Linked DNA regions of Homo sapiens. The protein of the gene in region 5 purifies or fractionates together with the protein of the main gene of each other region. This does not show direct contact. Each region holds a gene or a part of one and is shown on either strand. Other genes may lie near its edges. The genes, in order: RPF2, DDX21, PARN, DIMT1, UTP14A and NOP14.

What was found.
Region 1: the proteins of UTP14A (region 5) and RPF2 fractionate together in Homo sapiens (co-fractionation; one large-scale study listed by BioGRID). This does not show direct contact.
Region 2: the proteins of UTP14A (region 5) and DDX21 purify together in Homo sapiens (co-immunoprecipitation; one large-scale study listed by IntAct). This does not show direct contact.
Region 3: the proteins of UTP14A (region 5) and PARN purify together in Homo sapiens (affinity purification with mass spectrometry; one large-scale study listed by BioGRID and IntAct). This does not show direct contact.
Region 4: the proteins of UTP14A (region 5) and DIMT1 purify together in Homo sapiens (affinity purification with mass spectrometry; one large-scale study listed by BioGRID and IntAct). This does not show direct contact.
Region 6: the proteins of UTP14A (region 5) and NOP14 purify together in Homo sapiens (affinity purification with mass spectrometry; one large-scale study listed by BioGRID and IntAct). This does not show direct contact.

The regions. Positions count from the first base shown.
Region 1 is NC_000006.12:110,985,038-110,988,537, reverse strand, and holds part of RPF2 (ribosome production factor 2 homolog), read right to left. Parts: coding exon 3,400-3,500; intron 1-3,399. UniProt on the Homo sapiens protein: Involved in ribosomal large subunit assembly. May regulate the localization of the 5S RNP/5S ribonucleoprotein particle to the nucleolus.
Region 2 is NC_000010.11:68,959,170-68,962,669, reverse strand, and holds part of DDX21 (nucleolar RNA helicase 2), read right to left. Parts: intron 2,865-3,500; coding exon 2,421-2,864; intron 589-2,420; coding exon 513-588; intron 1-512.
Region 3 is NC_000016.10:14,581,761-14,585,260, forward strand, and holds part of PARN (poly(A)-specific ribonuclease PARN), read right to left. Parts: intron 3,032-3,500; coding exon 2,989-3,031; intron 2,663-2,988; coding exon 2,587-2,662; intron 532-2,586; coding exon 421-531; intron 1-420. UniProt on the Homo sapiens protein: 3'-exoribonuclease that has a preference for poly(A) tails of mRNAs, thereby efficiently degrading poly(A) tails.
Region 4 is NC_000005.10:62,390,406-62,393,905, forward strand, and holds part of DIMT1 (dimethyladenosine transferase), read right to left. Parts: intron 2,586-3,500; coding exon 2,521-2,585; intron 1,830-2,520; coding exon 1,766-1,829; intron 1,602-1,765; coding exon of another isoform or gene 1,566-1,601; exon of another isoform or gene 1,314-1,565; intron 621-1,313; exon of another isoform or gene 578-620; coding exon 471-577; exon of another isoform or gene 1-470. UniProt on the Homo sapiens protein: Specifically dimethylates two adjacent adenosines in the loop of a conserved hairpin near the 3'-end of 18S rRNA in the 40S particle.
Region 5 is NC_000023.11:129,916,164-129,919,663, reverse strand, and holds part of UTP14A (U3 small nucleolar RNA-associated protein 14 homolog A), read right to left. Parts: intron 490-3,500; coding exon 370-489; intron 270-369; coding exon 175-269; intron 1-174. UniProt on the Homo sapiens protein: May be required for ribosome biogenesis.
Region 6 is NC_000004.12:2,949,907-2,953,406, forward strand, and holds part of NOP14 (nucleolar protein 14), read right to left. Parts: intron 2,492-3,500; coding exon 2,369-2,491; intron 1,340-2,368; coding exon 1,208-1,339; intron 1,173-1,207; exon of another isoform or gene 308-1,172; coding exon 28-307; intron 1-27. UniProt on the Homo sapiens protein: Involved in nucleolar processing of pre-18S ribosomal RNA. Has a role in the nuclear export of 40S pre-ribosomal subunit to the cytoplasm.

The DNA.
Region 1 (3,500 bases), on a different chromosome or scaffold from region 5:
CCCGAGCTCAGGAATTCGAGGCTGTGGTGAACCGTGATTGCACCACTGCACTCCAGCTCTGGTGATAGAGTGAGACCCTGTCTCAGAAAAAAAAAAAAAAAAAGTAGTAGACAAAAACAGAAAAAATAAATTCTATCACGAAAGGCTGACAGATTGAAATAATGTTGCGTGGAGATCAGAAAACTTAGAAACAGTAATAATGATGACAATTAGAATACTAGCCAGAGGTTAAACACAGCTCTTTAAAAAATGCCTATTATTCAATGTTCTTCATTTTTTTCCTAGTTCTACCTATCCACAAATAATCATTCATTTTATTTTATTTATTTATTTTTGAGACAGGGTCTCACTCTGTTGCCCAGGCTGGAGTGCAATGGCGTGATTAAAGCTTACTGCAGCCTGAAACTCCAGGGCTCAGGTGATCCTCCCATCTCAGCCTCCCAAGTACAGACACATGCACCACGCCCAGCTAATTTTTGTATTTTGAGTGGAGATGGGGTTTCACCATGTTGTCCAGGCTGTATTTTATTATTTTTTTAAATTTAATTTATAGAGATGGGGTCTCACTTTGTTGTCCAGGCTGTCATCCTAGGCTTAAGTGATCCTCCCACCTCAGCCTCCCAAAGTGCTGGGATTACAGGTGTGAGCCACCACACCTGGCCTATAATCATTTATTACTTGTATGGCCAGTACTGCTCTACCATAGAGAATAACAAAGATGTCATCAGGTACTACCTTGCATTAGAGAAATGGGTAAATGAGGGAAACAATGAAAAATAAGGTATAATAATCATTCATCAACTATCAGAGTTGGTGAACAAAGAAAATGCAACAGTAAAATCTACCTTTTTAAGTACTAAAACTTTTGATGATTCTTGGCCAACTATTTCCCTGTTTCCGTGTAATAAACATTGCCACCTCTTCTTGATGACTCAGAGTCATCATGATGAATTTTAATTATTGTAGTAATCTGTAATATTGTGCTGCTTTTAAAGCTTACTTAAATATGCAGGGTCATTGTGCTGATGGATACTAGAAGGAGAGGGGCAGTTTCCCGTTAGCACAATGAAATTCAGACAAACATTTCAAAAAAGGGATGGGCCTATATAAGGCATTCAGACATCTGAATTGACTATGCTTATCAGGCATAGAGTTTGGTCAAGTTTAAAATATATTCAAAGCCAGGCATGGTGGCTCACTCCTGTAATCTCAGCACTTTGGGAGGCCGAGGCGGACAGATCATGTCAGGTCAGGAGTTTGTGACCAGCCTGGCCAACATGGTGAAACCCTGTCTCTACTAAAAGAACACAGAAATTAGCTGGGTGTGGTGGCTCCCAGCTACTTGGGAGGCTAGAGGCAGGAGAATCGCCTGAACCCGGGAGTCAGAGGTTGCAGTAAGCCAAGATGGCACCACTGCACTTCAGCCTGGGCAACAGCGTGAGACTCCACCTCAATAACAACAACAAAAATGTATTCGATTACTTAATTGATTTAATTCAAAGATCTATTGGCTGTACTCAAGGCCTAATTAGTCAAATAACCTACTAGATATCTCCACATACTATGTCTTTTTTTTTTTTTTAGTTGGAGTCTTGCTCTGTTACCCAGGCTGGAGTAAGTGCAATGGCGTGGTCTCAGCTCACTCCAACCTCCATCTCCCAGGTCCAAGCAGATTTTCCGGCCTCAGCCTCCCTAGTAGCTGGGATTACAGGCGCCCACCACCATGGCTGGCTAATTTTTGCATTTTTAGTAGAGACAGGATTTCACCGTGTTAGCCAGGCTGGTCTCGAACTCCTGACCCCGTGATCCGCCCACCTCGGCCTCCCAAAGTGCTGGGATTACAGGTGTGAGCCACTGTGCCTGGCCCATACTATGCCTTTCTTTCATAGATTACATATATATTGAGTACCTACTATGTCCAGACACTGGGCTGTACACTAGGCTACAGAGGTAGAAAAAACAAAGCTTTTATTTTCATTACTTAAATTACATGTCCCAAACCGAACCTTTCACCTTTCCCTCCAAACCTGCTCCGCTTGATACATTTTCTAATTGGCATTATTGCCCATCAGGCACTCAAGCCAAACACCTGGGAAGTCATACTTTTCACTAGTTCCCAACTCTTCTTTCCTCAACATCTATTCTTTCTGGTCATTTCTCATTTTCATTGCCACCACTGGACTCCAGATGCTCTTCACCTAGCTGGCAGCAATGGCTTAGTTTCCTACATTTGCTCTCAACCCTCTCTAATCAAGCCAATTAAAAGGACTGATGGTATCTCTTGCTTAATATCTTTCAATGATTACACGGAGCTTTCAGATTAGAATTCAAATTTCATGTTACTATGTGACCCATGCCTCCTCTTCTAGCCTCATCTAGCCCACTCTCCTTTGGCCATGCCCAATTATTTACAGTTCTCCAAATGCATCAATGCTCCTTCATACTCCCTTTTGCACAAACTTCTTTCTCAGCCTCAGAGGATCTTCTCTTTCTCTCCCACTTCTTGCACCAACTTCTCCTTCAAAATGAAGCTGCAGTGTTATCTCTGGGGGAACCTACCCTGTGTGGGGGTCCCCCTATGTGATTTTTTTTTTTTTTTTTTGAAATGGAGTCTCTCTCTGTCACTCAGGCTGGAGCAGTGGCACAATCTCGACTGACTGTGACCTCCACCTCCCAGGTTCAGGCGATTCTCCTGCCTCAGCCTCCCGAGCAACTGGGACTACAGGCGCCCGCCACCACACCCGGCTAATTTTTGTACTTTTAGTAGAGACGGGGTTTCACCATGTTGGCCAGGCTGGTCTCGAACTTCTGACTTCGTGATCCTCCTGCCTCGGCCTCCCAAAGTGCTGGGATTACAGGCGTGAACCACCGTGCCTGGCCTCCCCTATGTGATTTTAACTGTTTCCCACCCTACCCTGTCCATGCCTCCAGCACAGCACAGTGTAAGAACTTTTTACATGTCTATCTCTCTAAGCTCACTGAAAGAACTGTGTCTCACCTATTAATTCCCAGCAGAGGCACAGTAACCGGTGTTGTTGAATGACTAAATATACAGCAATATGCAGTTACTTCTCTTTACAAATTAGATTTTTTCCTAAAATGTAAGTAAGCCAAATTCTAGTAATTGAAAACAGTTTAAATTTACTAAGGGAGACCTTCACTCTACCAGACCCACCTGTGCTCCTAAAAAACAATAATAAAATTTACTAAGAGAACTAGTTGCTTTAAGAAAAGGTGCCACGCAAGGTAAATAAACCCCCAACTTTAGCTCTTCTCTAAGACTAGTAGTTCTTATGGTAAGGCAAGCTTATCTACGTATTTCTCCGACAGCCCATCCTAGCATGCTGAAAATTCTAAAATGACTTCAATACCTTTTAAAGATTAAGTATATATACTTACCACATCTTTAAGTACTTTTGTCACTGTTGCATTTGCATTTCCCCCTTTAATCAGCATGGCATTTTTAATATTTTCATTGAGTTTCGGTTCTCTCTTCTCAA
Region 2 (3,500 bases), on a different chromosome or scaffold from region 5:
CACCATTAGTCAATACACTTCTGAATACACACTGTATTAAATACAATTTTTTTTGAGACAGGGTTTCATTCTGTCACCCAGGCTGGCGTGCAGTGGTGTGACCACAGTTCACTGAAGCCTTGAACTCCTGGGCTCAAGCGATCTTCCTTCCTCAGCCTCTGGAGTAGTTAGGACTATAGATGTGTGTTACCACGTGCCCAGCTAATTTTTAAACTTTTTGTCGGGACAGGTTCTCACTATGTTACCCAGGAAGATCTCAAACTCCTGGCCTCAATCAATTACAGGTGTGAGCCACCACAGAGGGCCTGAAAAAGCTTTAACCACTTGTTTAAGAAGCATGAAGAACCATCACTACTATAGTACTAAATTGAATACACAGGCCTACTTCATTATATGACTGCATATATCAGCCTACAATAAGAATACATCCTGGTTCATCTTAACAAAAATAGTGGAGTGCTTCTGTTAAAATAATACGTTCTAACATCATACGATATTTCCAAGAACATTACCTTTGAGAAGTTTAATAGTTTCTTCAGATATGGGAAAATTAGAGAAAGCGCCTTCTTTTTGTTCCACAGGTATTTCCTATCAAGTAAAGGGCCATAGAAAGAAATCAATAATCACCTACACAAATTAATAGAGAACCTTCTGAGAAAGAGACAAAACAAGCTATCCTAAAGCAATTCTTCTAAACACATCACTTTAAAAATCAACCAAAAAGATACAAAAACCTTGATAGGTAACTCGAGATCTGAAAAGGAAACATTGTCATAAATCTATAAAACTTTAACAAAAGAAAAATCTGAGGCAAATATATACTGGGTAACTAGATCTCAACTAAGATCTCAACTAAGATTATGTGTGACTAGATCTCAACTAAGATCTACTCCATAACCATAATCAACAATATACTGATGGAAATGTCATTAGCCCTCTTCCAAAGCAGCATCTCTTGTATACACACATCCATAGAAAATGAACAAACATTTTATGAGGTAGCAGTCACTGTGGCATTATTTGATAGTAAGATATCTGAATGCTCAATACAAGTAGTAAGTAGATTTCAAGACATTTATATGAAGGATTATGTAACCATTAAGCGTACTTAACGAGGAAAATGCTTAGCTAGAAACAAAAAAGATACAAGATTGCACAGTACAATCCTAATCTGATTAAAAATAATAGATGCATATACTAAAAGTACTACAAGGAAACACCAAAAATTAACAAGATGACTTCTGTACTTGAAAAGTACAGGTATTAATATTTACTAAATGAATGGTGAAATTCCAGGAAGCATTTCTTTCTTTTTGCAAAATGTCTGCATTTTCTATTTTCTCTGGATCACATATTTTTTATAATCAGGAAAAAAGTTACAAATGTTGACCATGATCTATAGCAAAAAGAAAATCTATTAGAATTAGTATTTTTCAGCTGGGTGTGGTGGCTTGTGCCTGTAATCCCAGCTACTCGGGAGGCTTAGGCGGGATTATCGCTTGAAGCCACAAGTTCTAGACCAGCCTGGGCCACACAGCGAGATCCCATGTCTAAAACAAATTTTTTTAATACAATTCGTATTTCTTTCATAACTGAGTTTCTGAAAGATAACAGAATTAGGTTCTGGACAGACATTTTATCATCCTGTTCAACTCCAGGATGATTACTTAATGGCCTAACCAAAAGGACTTATGCAATCAACCTTTTCAGTAATTCCAATAATTTATTTGGTTAAACCCCTCAGAGGGAAACTAGGGCCCATTTACAAAACTGTATCTCTTCTGTTGACTGACTTGCAAATAAGCAGACCAAGACTCTCCCTAAGCTTAAGCAGTATCTGCTTATTTGTAAAGGAGGCATTGTGACACTATGCTAATTTTTTTTTTTTTTTTTTTAAAGACAGAGTCCGCTGGGAACAGTAGCTCATGCCTGTAATCCCAACACTTTGGGAGGCCCAGGCGGGCAGATCACCTGGGGTTGGGAGTTCGAGACCAGCCTGGCCAACATGGTGAAAGCCCGCCTCTACTAAAAATACAAAAAATTAGCCAGGCGTGATAGCACACACCCGTAATCCCACCTACTGAGGAGGCTAAGGTAGGAGAATCACTTGAACCCAGGAGGCAGAGGTTGCAGTGAGCTGAGATCGTGCCACTGTACTCCAGCCTAGGTGACAGAGCGAGACTCTGTCTCAAAAAAATAAAAAAATAAAAAAGACAGAGTACTCTTAGCTGAGCCACCATGCCCTGTCGTATGCTAATTTTTAAGATGAAGTCCCAGTCAGCCTAAGGTATCCCCCAACCCACAAGGTGCTGACACATCACATTTTCTCCTACTATTAAAGAGTACATATAGCAGTTACCTACTTATTTATCTGAAACAACAATGAAAGATATCTTCTACCCAATGAAGTGCAAATGTACCTGCTCTATCTCACTGTTACTTTCTTCACTGGCAGCTTCACTGGGGTTACAGTCCGGTTCAGGATGAGGAAATCCATTCTTCAGTTTGGGGCTTTTCTCTCTAGTTTCTCCATTCATTTCCTTTTCTTTCTTCATCTTCTTGGGCTTAGGAGCATCTATTTCTTCCTCAGAAGGCTCCTCATTTTTTGTCACTTTTTTGGTTTTAGAAGAAACCACTTTCTTTTCAATGGGCTCCTTTTTCTTTCTCAAACTTTTGGTTTTAGGAGAAATGTCATTTTGAGATGGCTCCTCTTTCTTTTTTGCCTTTTTGGATTTAGGAGAATTCATGTCAACTTCAGAAGGCTCTGCTTTCTTTTTAACTTGTTTAGCTTTGGGGAAAACAGTTTCTTCCTCTTCTGCTATCTCTTCAGTCTTATCAGATTTTGGCTTCTCTTTTTTCTCTTTCTAAAAAAAATTCATAAGGAAAATACAAACACTGAATAAGGCATTTATACATTTGCAACATTCATCAATTCTGGATTATTTCAAGATCATTTTCAACTTTAAAAAATACAATTTTGGGGCATTTCGACATTTGTACTTTCATGCTGTGATAAGGTAAAAATCAAAATAGTAAGCTTTTTCTAAAATCGCTTCTTAGCTATATATATAGACGGGTATATATCAATAGTTTCACTATCTTGGAAAATGAAGAGTGCCCCTTAGTAACTATTCAACTCATGTGGGTCAAACAGTTGTAAAACAGATTTTCTTTTTTGAGACAGAGTCTCGCTCTGTCGCCCAGGCTGTAGTGAAGTGGCACAATCTCAGCTCACTGAAACCTCCACTCCTGAGTTCAAGTTATTCTCATGCCTCAGCCTCCCGAGTACCTGGGACTACAGGCGCCCACCACCACACCCAGCGAATTTTTGTATTTTTAGTAGAGGTGGGGTTTTCCCATGTTGCCCAGGCTGGTCTCAAACTCCTGAGCTCAGGCAACCCACCCACTCCGGCCTCCCAAACTGCTAGGATTACATGAGCCACCGTGCTTGGCCTATAAACCAGATTTTCATAAGGGATTTGGATAAGCTCATGGGATAC
Region 3 (3,500 bases), on a different chromosome or scaffold from region 5:
AAATTAAAAAGTTAGCCAGGCACAGTGATGCACACCAGTAGTCCCAGCTACTTGGGAGGCTGAGCCCAGGAGTTCAGCGTTGCAGTAAGCTATGATTGAACCACTGTACTTCCAGCCTGGGTGACAGAGTGAGACCCTGACTCTTAAAAAAGAGGCGGCACAGCTTCTGCTCTCTCTGCTCTCCACCACGTAAGGACAGGAGAAGGCAGCCATCTGCAAACCAGGAAGTGGGCTCTCACCAGATACTAGGTCTGCTGGCAACTGGGTCTTGGACTTTCCAGCCTCCTGAACATGAGAAATAAATGTCTGTTGTTTAAGCCCCACACTCGACAGTAATTTATTACAGCAGCCTAAGCCAGGAGACAGGTAAGATCCACCCTAGATCACTGCGTGTTTGACTGAAAGACATGTAATGCGTACCTAGGTAATTGGCCATGGAGATGAAGCACAGCCCTGTGATGTAGGCATCGTAGCCTGCCTCGTGGAGTTGTTCAGAGGCTGTGTCATAACTTGGAAAACCTTCGGCACTTTCTAAGAAAAAAAAGGAAAAAGTTTTCCTCAAAACAAAGACTAGTAAGCACATTGCCCTACCAATCAAAATTGCATTAGCATATGCTAGAGAAATACCCTAAATAGGCAGAAAAAAGCTATCTATTCCTTAATTCTCTCTATATAAGACCTTAAAATACAAGATAACAGAGTCACTGAAAAGGAGGGCTTTGGTCTAGGATACAGAAATGCCTCAGTTAGATTACAAAGGACTCAGCCGTGGGCTTTCTCGTCCCACACTGGTGGGTGCTATTTATGATCATCCATAACTCACTCTAGGACAATGATTCCTCTTCTGCTTGCTTTCTAAGGCCATGAAAAGGATATTCTTCCCTTATACAAGATGGTCACATCAGGCCACAATAGATGATCCAGAGTAAAGATTAAGAGCATGGGCTCTGGAGTCACACTGAGTTCGAATCTCTGCTCCACCACTTATTTGCGGTATGACCTTGGGCAAGTCACTTCATCCCTAAGGTTCCAGTTTTGTAAAACAGAGATGATAATCAAACCTTCTTCAAAAGGTTATTGTTAGGATCAGATAAGATAATATAAGTTAAACTCTTACCTAGTGCTTGGTACATAGTAAGTGCTCAAAAACTGTTATCTATCAATACCTGAGGCAACCCTCCCCCAAAAAAAGAGAAGACTGCAATTCACTATCAACAGCTCCAACTCACTACTGTCCTCTACTATGTTCCCAAGCTTAGAGATCGAAAGGTGACAGCACAACCAACTCCAAAAATAAATCGAACTTGCTATAATGCTGGCCTTGGATCATGGAACCACTTTACAGCAAAGACCGCTTTATATACAATATGGTTCTTTTGTGACATTGATAAATACAGATGTGACCAGATAAACTATAAGAGGAATGACCTGCTTTAGACTGAATTCTCTACCAGATACCACTATTTTATATGGAAATAATAACATAAAACTATAACTCATAAATAATTATATCCTAGAACCATTCTGGAAATGAATGTCAGGAAGGTTACTATAACACAGAATCAAAAGCATAAATGGAAATTAACAATGAAAAGGCTGTAACTGTTTTTATGTCAATACAATGCTCTTTAAGCAAGAATTCTTTAACTCCATATTAAATATTAGACTTGATGCCTTTAAAAAAAAGCCTTTTAACATGGTAGCCACCTAAGTAATATCTTCCACTCCATCATCAACTGAGACACATTCTTTCCAAAATCAATTATTTCCATTATATTGTTATAGAAAAGGTCCACGTTTTCTCCCCCAATGGCCCCACCACCACTTTTCTTAATTCCTTTCTTGGACTATTACCCAGAAAGGGGCAAATAACTGTAATCTTGGCTGCTTTAATACTTTGCATTATCAATTTCTAAACCATTAGTCCTATTATCCATGTCTTTAGAAGTTTTCAGGCTACAACTAATGGCTCGCTAATCACCGTATCAGCAGCACAATCAGGTTAACAGGGACCAAGGAAGTAGCACCTGGTAGGCTCTCCACATACCTTGGTGGTGGCCCGAGGTGGCAAAACACCTCCATCTCATCTCCCTACTTCTGGTTTTCCTCAGTGCTGCTGTTTCTACTCTCTAAACCAGCTGAAAAGGAGGCAGGGTGGGGACTTGCCTTAATCTCACCTGTAAATCCAGTTCTCGGGCTTTTCTGAGATGGAAAATATATTTTTTACTCTACCCCTGGTGATTAATCACTAGCTCTTTGTCTCTGCTTCAATAATGTATGAAAGAATAAAAGGGCACATCAAGTTTTAGGAGAATTCCATATTATTAGAAAATAGAAGCCTTGAAGCTTTAATTGCTAAAATTCTCAATGAATGGCTACCCAACTCCATTAACATAAAATATATGTAGAATTAAAAGACCATCTTTATTCAAAAAACAATAATTCAACACACGGTACGTGCAAGTGAATTCAGCCAAAATCTATAAATGAACAATACGGTCTCCAGAGCCATTCTGCTTTTCTTCTACAATATACATCAATAATTATTACAAAGAGTTTGGAGGGTTTCCGGTTTAATATTCTTACCAACTTTAGGAGGGTTGAAAGGTGTCTCTTTTAACCGCTTTTCCAATTCCGCAAGGGATGTGTTGTTAATGATATCCTGCAAACCACGAAGCAAAGAATTATGAGATTTCATCATCTCAGAACAATATATTAAAGAGATTCACTGACCCCCCCAAAAAAAAGACAGCATCTAGTACTGTCTCCTTGTGTTCTTTAAAGAAACACAGAAGTCTTCGTTTTTTTCAATGTGAAAGAGAAGCAGCTAGTTTAATTTTTATAATATACAAAGTATAACCAAATGAATAAAGATCTTTACAGATGCATTAAATACCTCCAAACCTTTTGCCAGAAGGCTATATTGTTCTGGCATTCATTTCACTCAGTAATATGCAGTCGCTTTATAAAGTAGCAAATGAATAATACCTTAAAAGGTTGTGTGCTGGCCATCAATTTAGTATCCAAGAGTCTAAAAAGAATTTTTAACAAGGTAAACAAAATGTATATCAATGTTTAAAATGTCTTTTACTCAAATATGTAAGCTACTTAAAATACTTCATACATAAAAAACATAATTAAAACATAAAATGTTTAATACAGAAAATACTTAAACACAGACAAAGTAATTAAACACATTGGCCATTTTGAACCCAGCACCAGCATCCCTGCTACGTTGGAGTAGGTACTCAGTCCCATCATCAGCGACTTCATTGAGCAACTGCAGGAGAGTCCACACTTGGAGTACAAGTTCTAGATTCACCTGGATCCTCAGAGAGCCTGGGCTCCATCAATCTCAAGGGTGAGTCAAATACTCTCACATGGTTTTACGTGGTTCAAATACTGCTGCCGGTCTACCATTCCCAAACTGCTACCATCTACTCCTACTCCTCAGGTTTGTAAACTATAAATTCTTCTGCAGGGCCAAAATCTACAATCAG
Region 4 (3,500 bases), on a different chromosome or scaffold from region 5:
CCAGGTAGGATTCTAACTGGCATTATTGTATGCTTAAGATTGATTTAACAACAGCTATTCCCAGTAAGGAAATTTTAAAAATCAGATCCAGTTACATGTATTATGATTTTTCTACCTTATGGACTATTTTGGAGGGATAAGCTATTAAGACTAAGACTATGAATGAGAGTTGGGGAAGGAGCAGGAAGGGAGGAACCTGCACACCACATTGGAACCTGCACACCACATTAACACAAAGGCAATCTTCTGGCTCGGACTGTTCTTTACTACTGTTCTTAAAGAAAATGTTCATTCTGCTGCAGCTAACTAGCCTCCATCTTCTACACCAAATACTATTCCATGCCATGGAAGTGCTATGCAATAACTCTCCCAGGTAGCACCTTATACCGCTTAAAAGCCTTTAAAATCTCCAATCTGAAGGTGTCACAGTAAAGAAATGTAAACACTTAGGAAAACAAAAATGTAATTACCTGATGAAGTCATCTATGTCCATGGAACGGGCCCGTTTGTCACTAAAACCTGTGCTGGTTAGGATTTGCTGTATTTTATCTGCTATGCTGAAATCTTCTGGTATTATCTATCAATATAAGATTCAGAATAAATGAACGACATATCTTTAATGAGGTCACCTTGACTCTTTTTTTTAGTTCAGTAAGTCATAAAATAGTCACCTTTAATATATCTGTTAATGAGACTTTGGAAAGCCTGATTTTTACATTAAGACTTGGATCTCTAATTAAAAGTGGCTGATCTTTATTAACAAAAACTTGGAATACCTTGAATTAGTAATCCTGTCTATATTAGCCATTTTCTTCTTTAAAATTCTGAAATAGTTATTAGTTTCAGACTTCACAAATAATTACAACTGTAAATTAAATTTTAAAGCAATTGTTACTCCTTTCAAAATAATGCATTTTCTTCCTACAGATTTGACCTTAACCACCTCATTTTTCTCAAAGAGGTGACCTGCCCAAGCCTTGGGAATATTAAGGATTTTACACTTAATTCACATATTTTATCCAAAAGGATTTTACACTTAATTCACATATTTTATCCAAATATTTTTCTTAATCTAGCTTAATATTTTTCTATTATACTTAGGCAGATTATCTAATGACTTTTTGCCCATAAAAGAGAAAATGGAGATAGTATTGTGATACATTAAACCATATAGGTTCTGAGTCATAAAAAATAAAAAGAAAATTGGCCTTTCTCTCTCTGTTCTAATTAAACTGGAAGCTAAAAAGATAGCAAACATCACATCGCACACACTGTTACACAAATGATACGCATGAGGCTCACAACCAGAAATCTGCTATTGAGCCATATGAACTTTATTTCAATTTCTATACAAAGAAAGTAATAACTATATTTGTAACTGCTATGTGAGCAAGAAACAAGACGTGGTCACAATTCAGAGGACAGTAAACTACACAATTATTTTAAGTTGTGCAAGCTACACATATCTACAGCTTTGAGGAACCTGTAACTGCTGAATCTGATTCTTGTTATGGCTAAAAACAACTGTCAGTAGTTAGAGGACAGGGTGGAGTAATCAAAGTTGCTCATATCTGTTTCACAGGATACACAGCAGCACTGACCTGTCAGAATTCAAGTCAAAATTGTGCTAGTTATACATTATATATTGTCTTTTAAGGATCTTATGGAATGTACAAAATAATCTCATGCTAGATCAACAAGAATAAAAATGGACATTTTAAAAGAAAACAAATCAATGAAACTGCAGGAACATTTTCTAACTTACAATATTATGGACTGAACAGTGAATTCTGTAGTTTTTTTCCAAGAGTTGTTGCACTGCACTTGATCTATAGCATAAAGAAGTGATGCCACTGTTATTATTCCAAAGTCAGAGTAATTTCTTACTTTTTTAAACTTTTTTTTAACTAATACATAAGCCATTTAAGCAATAATTTCATTTTAGATGAAATTAAATCTATATTCTGTATGGTGAAATTAAGGAATTTTAAAAGTTGTTGAATATTTAAACTTATGAAGCAAACACTAAATATATTTAAAGTGCAAAATCCTAATACCTCTTAAATTCTTAGAGAAGTTCTAGACTCTCCACAAAAAATCCCCTAAAAAAAAATCTCCAAGCCCTGTAAAACTGTGTCTCACCTCTCTTTTACCCTTGAACCCCAAATTGATGAGCTGCATTTTCCCAGGTTAATTACATGACACATATCCTTCACAAGTGTGGAAGGGGTCCATCATCACCTCATTTTTCCAACAAAAAACTAGAGCAGATATATGGTCAGAGTTTGGGAGTGTTTTCCTGTTTTGCCAAAAAATGTGATCTGACTCTCAACTCCAGCAAACTTTCTTCATTAAGTTTGCTTTAGAGCCTCCCAAGCTCTAAAGATAGTTTAAAAGGTGAAGTTTGTCTGGACCCATAATCTTTATGCTTTAGGGTAGCTGCTCAGGAAAAGGACCAAATTCTAGCATAGTATCTGGAGCACTGGCCCTTTATACATTAGAAATTAGTGTAATACTTACTTAAATGCAGCAGAGAGTGTCTTGTTTTTCCTAACAAAGGTTATCCTTACTAGACCATCCCATTCCTGAAATAGAAGATAGACATTTTCTTCAAATTACAAACTTCTTGTTCTTGTCTATGCCCACTAGGTATTATTTTGTCTTTTAATATATACAATTGAAGGAAACTTTCTGAAGTGAAGAAAATGTTCTGTAATCTTGATCTGGCTGGCACACACATGCAAAAGTAAGACATACATTTGATTTTTGCACTTTGGCGCATTTCACTGAATATGTCTTTTCCTCAGAATTTTTTTTTGACAAAGCATGACAATTTTTTTTTTTAATTTGAAAAAATAAAGCCAGGCACAGTGCTGCATGCCTGTAGTACCAGCTACTCAGGAGGCTGAGGTGGGAGGATCGCTTGAGACCAAAAGTTCAAGTCCAGCCTAGGCAACATAGTGAAACCCCATCTTAAAAAAAGAAAGGGAAGGAAAAACAAAATGGTCCCACATCTGAACAAAGAACATGGCGTTTATTTAAATCTAAGTATCATTTTCAAAAATAAGATTCAAAACAGACATGACTTCAGATACTTCCTGTGTAACACACCTAAACCTCCTTGAAGGAGTTATTGACAAACCACTCCATTTACCACCAGTTGACCACACACACAATCACGTTTTTCTCTAATGTGGCTGTAGTAAGGTTTTATATCAAGTGGTCTTCTTTCTTGTTTTTAAATCTCAAAAAACAATTACAATGAAAAGATGTTACCCATAATACTACTTTAAAACAACTATTTTCATTTTACCTTGTTTTCCTAGTTTTATTCCATTTTTTCTTTTTTTTTTTTGAGACTGGGTCTCACTTCAAAACTACCTTGCATCAAATTATTCCATCTACTTCAGCACAGGGATGTGTCCTAATTAACATTTTCCTATGTTTGAATATTTAGGTTGATTCAATATTTTTCTGCTGTTATAGGCACACATCTTCCC
Region 5 (3,500 bases):
TTGGCAAAACTGTATGAGGTTGGTTTGGGGGGAACAAAAGGCTAGTCACTCCTGTTTGGGACCTCATCTGCATGACTCTAGTTGCTGCATCAAAGGTTCTCTCCAAAGAATTCATGATGAACCACATGACTTTCTTCTGTGGAACCCAAGGCCAGTTCACAGGGGCCTCCTTACTTTTTACTTTTGATTTTCTTCTCTCTTCGAGCCTTGGCCTCATAGTAGGACTGCAGAGCCCGAGCCCTCTGAAGCTCTGCTCGTCGCATCTTTGCCTACAACAAATGAGACTTACAGTGACACCTGGGCCAGAGGACAAATGCTAGGAGAAGCGTGGCATGCCTGGGTGTGCTGAAGGGCCTATGACACACTTACCTCTTCTAGGCTCATGGCTCGGAGAGAGGCCTTTTCCACAGGGGTCAGTAAAGGGTCTGTCACTGGCTGCTTGTTCTTATGGAGGAGGTTGAAAATTTCCTGCTCCAGGGGAGTTCTTGCCTTAAAGAAGCAACAAAACATTCTGAGTCTTAAGCCATGCTCTTACAGCTTTCTCTCTTTACATTCCTATGATTCTCTAACTTATGACACTATAATTGGAATCATAAGTGGATAGGATTGGCTGTTACAGCAAGAGAAGGGGGTTCCAGTCTTGTTGTCAGAAGTATAAATAAAGCCTTATTTGATTCTTATATAAGACAACTTCAGCAGGGAGACGCTGAGGCTACTCTCTAATACTGCTGAGGGGGATCACTGTGTTCAGGTTACCAATATATGTTTTTTTTTTTCTTTTTTCTTTGAGATGGAGTCTTGCTCTGTCGCCCAGGCTGAAGTGCAGTGGCGTGATCTCGGCTCACTGCAAGCTCCGCCTCCTGAGTTCACGCCATTCTCCTGCCCCAGCCTCCCGAGTAGCTGGGACTACAGATGCCTGCCACCACGCCCAGCTAATTTTTTGTATTTTTAGTAGAGACAGGGTTTCACCGTGTTAGCCGGGATGGTCTCGATCTCCTGACCTCGTGATCCGCCCGCCTCGGCCTCCCAAAGTGCTGGGATTACAGGCGTGAGCCACCGCGCCGGCCCAGATTACCAATATATGTTAAACTGATTTCCATTCTCTTAAGAATCTAGGCACATTGCCCTTGAGTCCCTGTATTGTTATGTATCATTTGAAGCACATAACTATTACTTTATAGTTAGGAATCTCAAATTCATATCATAAGCCTTCTTTTAGAATATTTCTAGAGGGAAGGGGCGGTTAGTTTTTTTTTTTTTTTTTTTTGTTTTCTGAGACAGAGTCTTGCTCTGTCACCCAGGCTGGAGTCCACTGGCACTCCAATCTCAGCTCACTGCAACCTCCACCTCTAGTGCTCAAGTGATCCTTCTGCCTCAGCCTCCTGCGCAGCTGGGACCACAAGTGTAAGCCACCATGCCTGGCTAACTTTTTTTATTTTTTGTAGAGACAGGGTCCTGCCATGTTGCCCAGGTTGGTCTTAAACTCCTGGCCTCAAGCCATCCTCCTGCCTTGGCCTCCCAAAGTGCTGGGATTACAGGCGTGAGCCCAGCATGCCCTGTGAGATTAGATCTTAAGATAAGCATTATTTGCCACTGATGGTATACCTAGGACATATATCTGCAAATGTCTCAGAGGGGAAGCCCAACTTTTTTTGACCATAGCCAACTGCTATAAACCATGCATATAAGTGTTCTTGGTATCATTAATTACTGATGAAAGAAAATGAGAAAAAACATGGCATTTTTTTGGCAGAGTCTTCAAATGTAGTTTGTGGTGGGGTGTGTGTCTTAATTTCTTGAGCACAAAAGGATATTGCCTGAAAAAAAATATAGGATGGGCATGGTGGCTCAGGCCTGTAATCCCAGCACTTCGGGAGGCTGAGGCAGGAGGATTGCTTGAGCCCACAAGTTTGAGACCAGCCTGGGCAACATGGTGAAACCCCATCTCTATTTATTATGTTAAAAACAAACAAACAAAAAGACCTTCATGTAATCAGCCTGTTTCCTGATGGTTCAAGTTGAACTCTCCTCATTTTCTAACTTTGGCTCCAATTCCTCAGTTTCCAGTTAATTTTACATGCTAGGCAGAGTATGTATGAAACGAATGAACTGTAAACCAGTTATTCCACATGCTATCATGAGGATGGCTAAATATTCAGGCCGATCATGCCACGGTCCACATTCTGGCAAGGCACAAAGACAGCCCTAGGCAACAGAGCTAGTTTCAAACCTCACACACATATTATGTGTGGTTTTCTTCAATAGCCATATACATCGTGGTCAGTATTAAACTTACAAATATTTGGATAAATGCATAAACGCACATCATCACATGTTACACGATGCTATTGATTTAACCATAAAACTATTCTACTGAATAGTAAAGGTATATGTTCTTCCACTTTTAGTATTTGCAGTAGTGATCAATCTCAGGCTACAAAGTGATTTATACTACAATGTTGTAATGTCCCTTCAATTCAATTCAATTTACAAACATTTATTGATTGTAGCTATATTCCAGGCACTTGTATGGGGTGCTAGGAATACACAATTGATTAAGATAGTTCCTGTCCTCATAGAGCTCACAGCCTTTGAGAGCAGAGACATATACAACACAAACAGCATAACATAATGGGTTAAATACCCTTTATGTTACCCTTAAATAACATAACTGCTACGTTATTCTATAGGGGTAATCACAGAGGAAATTACCATTAAATATTATTGGGAGGTAGGTTAGGCTTAGGGAAGGAAGTGACCTTTTGAATTAGGCTTTGAGGCCTAAGTACAATTCTGTCAGGAGGAAAAAAAATCCAAACAGATGAGCATAAGCAAAAAACACAGACACAGGGAAAGGAGTGGTATGTAATAGAACAACGTGTTGTCCAGCATAGCTAAAATGCTACGTAATTTTATTTTATTCTGTAAGTGAACAGCCTTTGAAGGATTTTAAGCAGGAGAGCAATGATCAACTGTGTTTCAGCAAGAAAATCCTGCTGATTGTGTAGAGGATATATGTAAAGTTCCAAAGGAAAGGTTCAATGAGGGCCTCGATTAGGGCAGTGAAAATGAAAATGAAGAGAAAATAGGAGCATAAGGGCTATTACAGAGACAGAATTTGCAGGTCTAGCCCCCTGTATAAGCTGGCGGAGAGGGAGACAGTGAAGGGGTCAAGAAGGAATCAAATGACTGAGGTTTCCAACCTAAGTGACTGGGGTAGGGAGTTATGCTGTTAACTGAGTTGCAGAATGAAGGGGGTGGTATAGGTTTTGGAAGTCTGGGGAAAGGAAATGCGAAGCTTACTTTGGACTGGACTAAGTTTAAGGTGCATATGGGGGACCCAGGTGATCCCTGCTAGTCACATGGAATATGAGACTGGAGCTTCAAAGAAGGGGTTGAGAGTGATAGTCGAAAGTTATGAAATTTTCACTCCTGTAATCCCAGCATTCTGGGAGGCCGAGGTGGGCGGATCACGAGGTCAGGAGATCGAGACCATCCTG
Region 6 (3,500 bases), on a different chromosome or scaffold from region 5:
CCTGAGGAAACCCGCGCACTTGCCCACCTGCGAACGTGTAGGGCAGCTCGTCTCTGGTAGCTTTTCCAGCTCTTTCCTTGCCGCTTATCAACCCTTTCCCAGGAGTCTGCCTCTGCTCTTTTGCTGGCTTCTCGTTTTCTTCCTCACTCTCCACGTTGGATTCCAGGTCCAAGTGGCTATCTGGGCTGTCGCTCTCCTCTGTGTCCTCCCCGCCTGAACTGTCACCTTCTTCCTCGTTGCTCTCAGGGTCACTGGCTTCCTTGCTTTGCTCTTCCTGGACATCTTCCTCGACATTCATCTTTCCATCCTACCAAGAGCGTGGAAACCACAGGGCATGAGGACAGGCGGAGACAACGCTGGACCATCTCACAGCCACATCAAGAGGCTGCCCACATCAGGGCTTTCTACGTGGTTGCAAGGAACACAAACCTGTGTGCTCCATTTGCCCACTGGCACTAGGCCTCCTGCCCACCACCCGCTTCTAGGCTATTCGAGCCGCAGGAGCTACAGGCTGCTAGAGAACCCTGCGGCAGGATGCTGGGCGCGGTTCAGCTTTTGCCAGGGAGCAGCATGGGACTGGGATTTGGAAGGTGTACAGTGGCTGCGGGCTTTAGCAGGAGGAGTGTCTACAGCACCTTCTGCTCCTCCAGGTAACCTAGTGTTTTTATCAGTATCCATTTTCCTGTGTGGATCTCTTCTGCTTGAAACCTGTCCTGCCTATTTTTCTTCCCTGGACCCTGACTGATACACTCTTAAAACGAGAAAAGGGTACCGATTTATAAAGTTCGTGAATTAAAAACTACACCAGTCATGGAAACTCAATGACATCACTCAAAGAAAATTCACAACTCTAGCCTTGAGTTAGCTCCCTCAATAGTATGATGAGGTCATGCAGATAGAATCATACAGTTATTAACAAAAGTAGTTGATGTTAACCGAGTAATCAGTTTTATCTGTGTTCCTTTGAGACAGAGAGAGAGAGTGAGAAAGAGAGCGTGAGCAAGTGAGTGCACATACTATTGTTAAAGTCTTCTCTCTAAAGTTTTAATATCTGATATACCATAAACACCCAGATAAAGAACTTTAGAGAAACTGGTTAAAAAGATTTAAAATTCCCAACTGTAATAAATCCCTAAAATGAATACCAAAAAAATGTTTTTAAATTAAAAAAAGAGAGAGAAAGAGAAAATGAAGGCAAACATCTTACTTTGTAGGAAAGCAAACGCCTGTCATCTTTATCTAGCACGAAGCCATCATTCAGATCATCTGCTGACATATGTTTTGGTTTCTTAACATTTTCATCCTCATCCTTTCCAAGCATTCTTCGAAGTCTCTCAGCCTGAGCAGGAAGGAATGAGATGTCTTAGAGCACACTCTTCCAACATATGGTGAGGGGGCCGTGCAGTCCTGCCCTGGGCAGCGGGCTGGGCCTACGGTCCTCCCAGCTCTGAGGCTGGTGCATCCAGCCTGCTTTCTGCCTGCAGTTTTCAATCAGGCATGCAAACACTAGCTAAGCAGCACATTCCTCATTTAACAAAATCAACTGTTCAAACTTTGTGGCCAATACTCTCCAGTCACCAGGCAAGCCTATTATTCTGAGGCCTTCACAGCCCAATTCTGCTGGCCAGCCCCGACTGGGACTCATCACCCCCTGCACCGAGAGAATAGGAGCCAGGACGCCAAGAGCAAGCAGCTCCACGGCCTCCACTATTTGACCACACACTGGACACGGGAAGAAGCTAGTGATGTGGTTATGTCAAAACAGCCAGCTGAGCCAGCTGTGATGGCAGCCCACACCTGTAACCCCAGCACTGTGGGAGGCCGTGGTGGGAGGATCAGCTGAGACCAGGAGTTTGAGAACAGCCTAGGCAACATAGGGAGATGCTCATCTATACAAACAATTTTTGAAAATTAGCTGGGGCCAGGCGCGGTGGCTCACACCTGTAATCCCAGCACTTTGGGAGGCCGAGGTGACTGGATCACCTGAGGTCAGGAGTTCAAGACCGCCTGGCCAACATGGCGAAATCCTATCTCTACTAAAAATACAAAAATTAGCCGGGCGTGGTGGCAGGCGCCTGTAATCCTAGCTACTCAGGAGGCTGAGGCAGGAGAATCACTTGAACCCAGGAGGTGGAGTTTGCAGTGAGCCAAGATTGTGCCACTGTACTCTAGCTGGGTGACAGAGCGAAACTCTGTCTCAAAGAAAAAAAAAAAAAAAGGTATTCATGAATAAATATAAACTTTAAATAGACTAAAATATTCCACTGATCAAACAGAGTATTCTCTTCAGCCCATCCTGCAAAATGGAGCAGAAGGGGCTGTGGACGGACAGCAGCACAGCCCTGCTCCTGAGGTGCTGCCACCCTACCTCCAGCTTCCTGAGGTGCTCCTGCTCTTCCTTTGCCAATTCTGCCTCCGTCTTCATCCTGTTAGAGGGCTGCGCCTTCATTTCAAAGCCAAGCTCGCGAACCATCATGTCATATGCATCGGGCTAAGGTAGAAAGAAGAAATTCTTCATTTTAAAAATATATTTATTTCTTATTTTACAAAAAGAAAAGATCTAGCTTCCTGGCACATTCTAGTAATGGCTAGATAATGTTATTGAAGTAGCTAAGCCACATCTACGTCTTTTCTTCTAGAGAGAAAACTGTTCTGATAAGCCCTGAGGATTGCGAAATCAGTGGACATTCGGTCACAAAGAATTTGTTTACCCCTAGAAAAATTCTCAGAATACATCTGCTTTAACGAAAACAGGCCAGGTGCAGTGGCTCACGCCTGTAATCCCAGCACTTTGGGAGGCCAAGGTGGGCAGATCACGTGAGGTCAGGAGTTTGAGATCAGCCTGGCCCAACATGGTGAAACCCTGTCTTTACTAAAAATACAAAAATTAGTCAAGCATGGTGGCACGCGCCTGTAATCCCAGCTACCCGGGAGGCTGAGGCAAGAGAATCACTTGAACCCAGGAGGTGGAGGTTGCAGTGAGGTGGAGGTTGCACTACACTCCAGCCTGGGTGACAGAGCGAGACTCCGTCTCAAACAACAACAAAAACGCTACTTATCCAGGCATTACGCCCTAAACGTGGGAAACTAAGTAAAGTAACGGTAACATCAAGGCTGACTGACAAAGATGCACAGATGACCACATGACACTAATCTGCTGGGATCTAGACTTCTCTGAGAACGCAGTTTCTTAAACAAATGCAGCATTTTCCAATAGTTTCGACTAAAGAGAATGCAGTAGGAAACAACTGTTTACAGAGGCAAAAATAAGTAAATGTATATTAAATGTATGTATTATGTATCAACAGACAAACATGTCACAGGGAAGTTCAGACACCTATTCTAACGTGTCCACCCTGAAGTACTTCTTCCATCCAGAAACACCACTTTTTTCAGTTTAATTCACCTGCAATAGAGACTCAAGTAACTGAATCTACTTCCACCCCAAGATTACACACAGCAGGTAATTCAGTATCAATGTTCAACAGAAACTTGCCCTA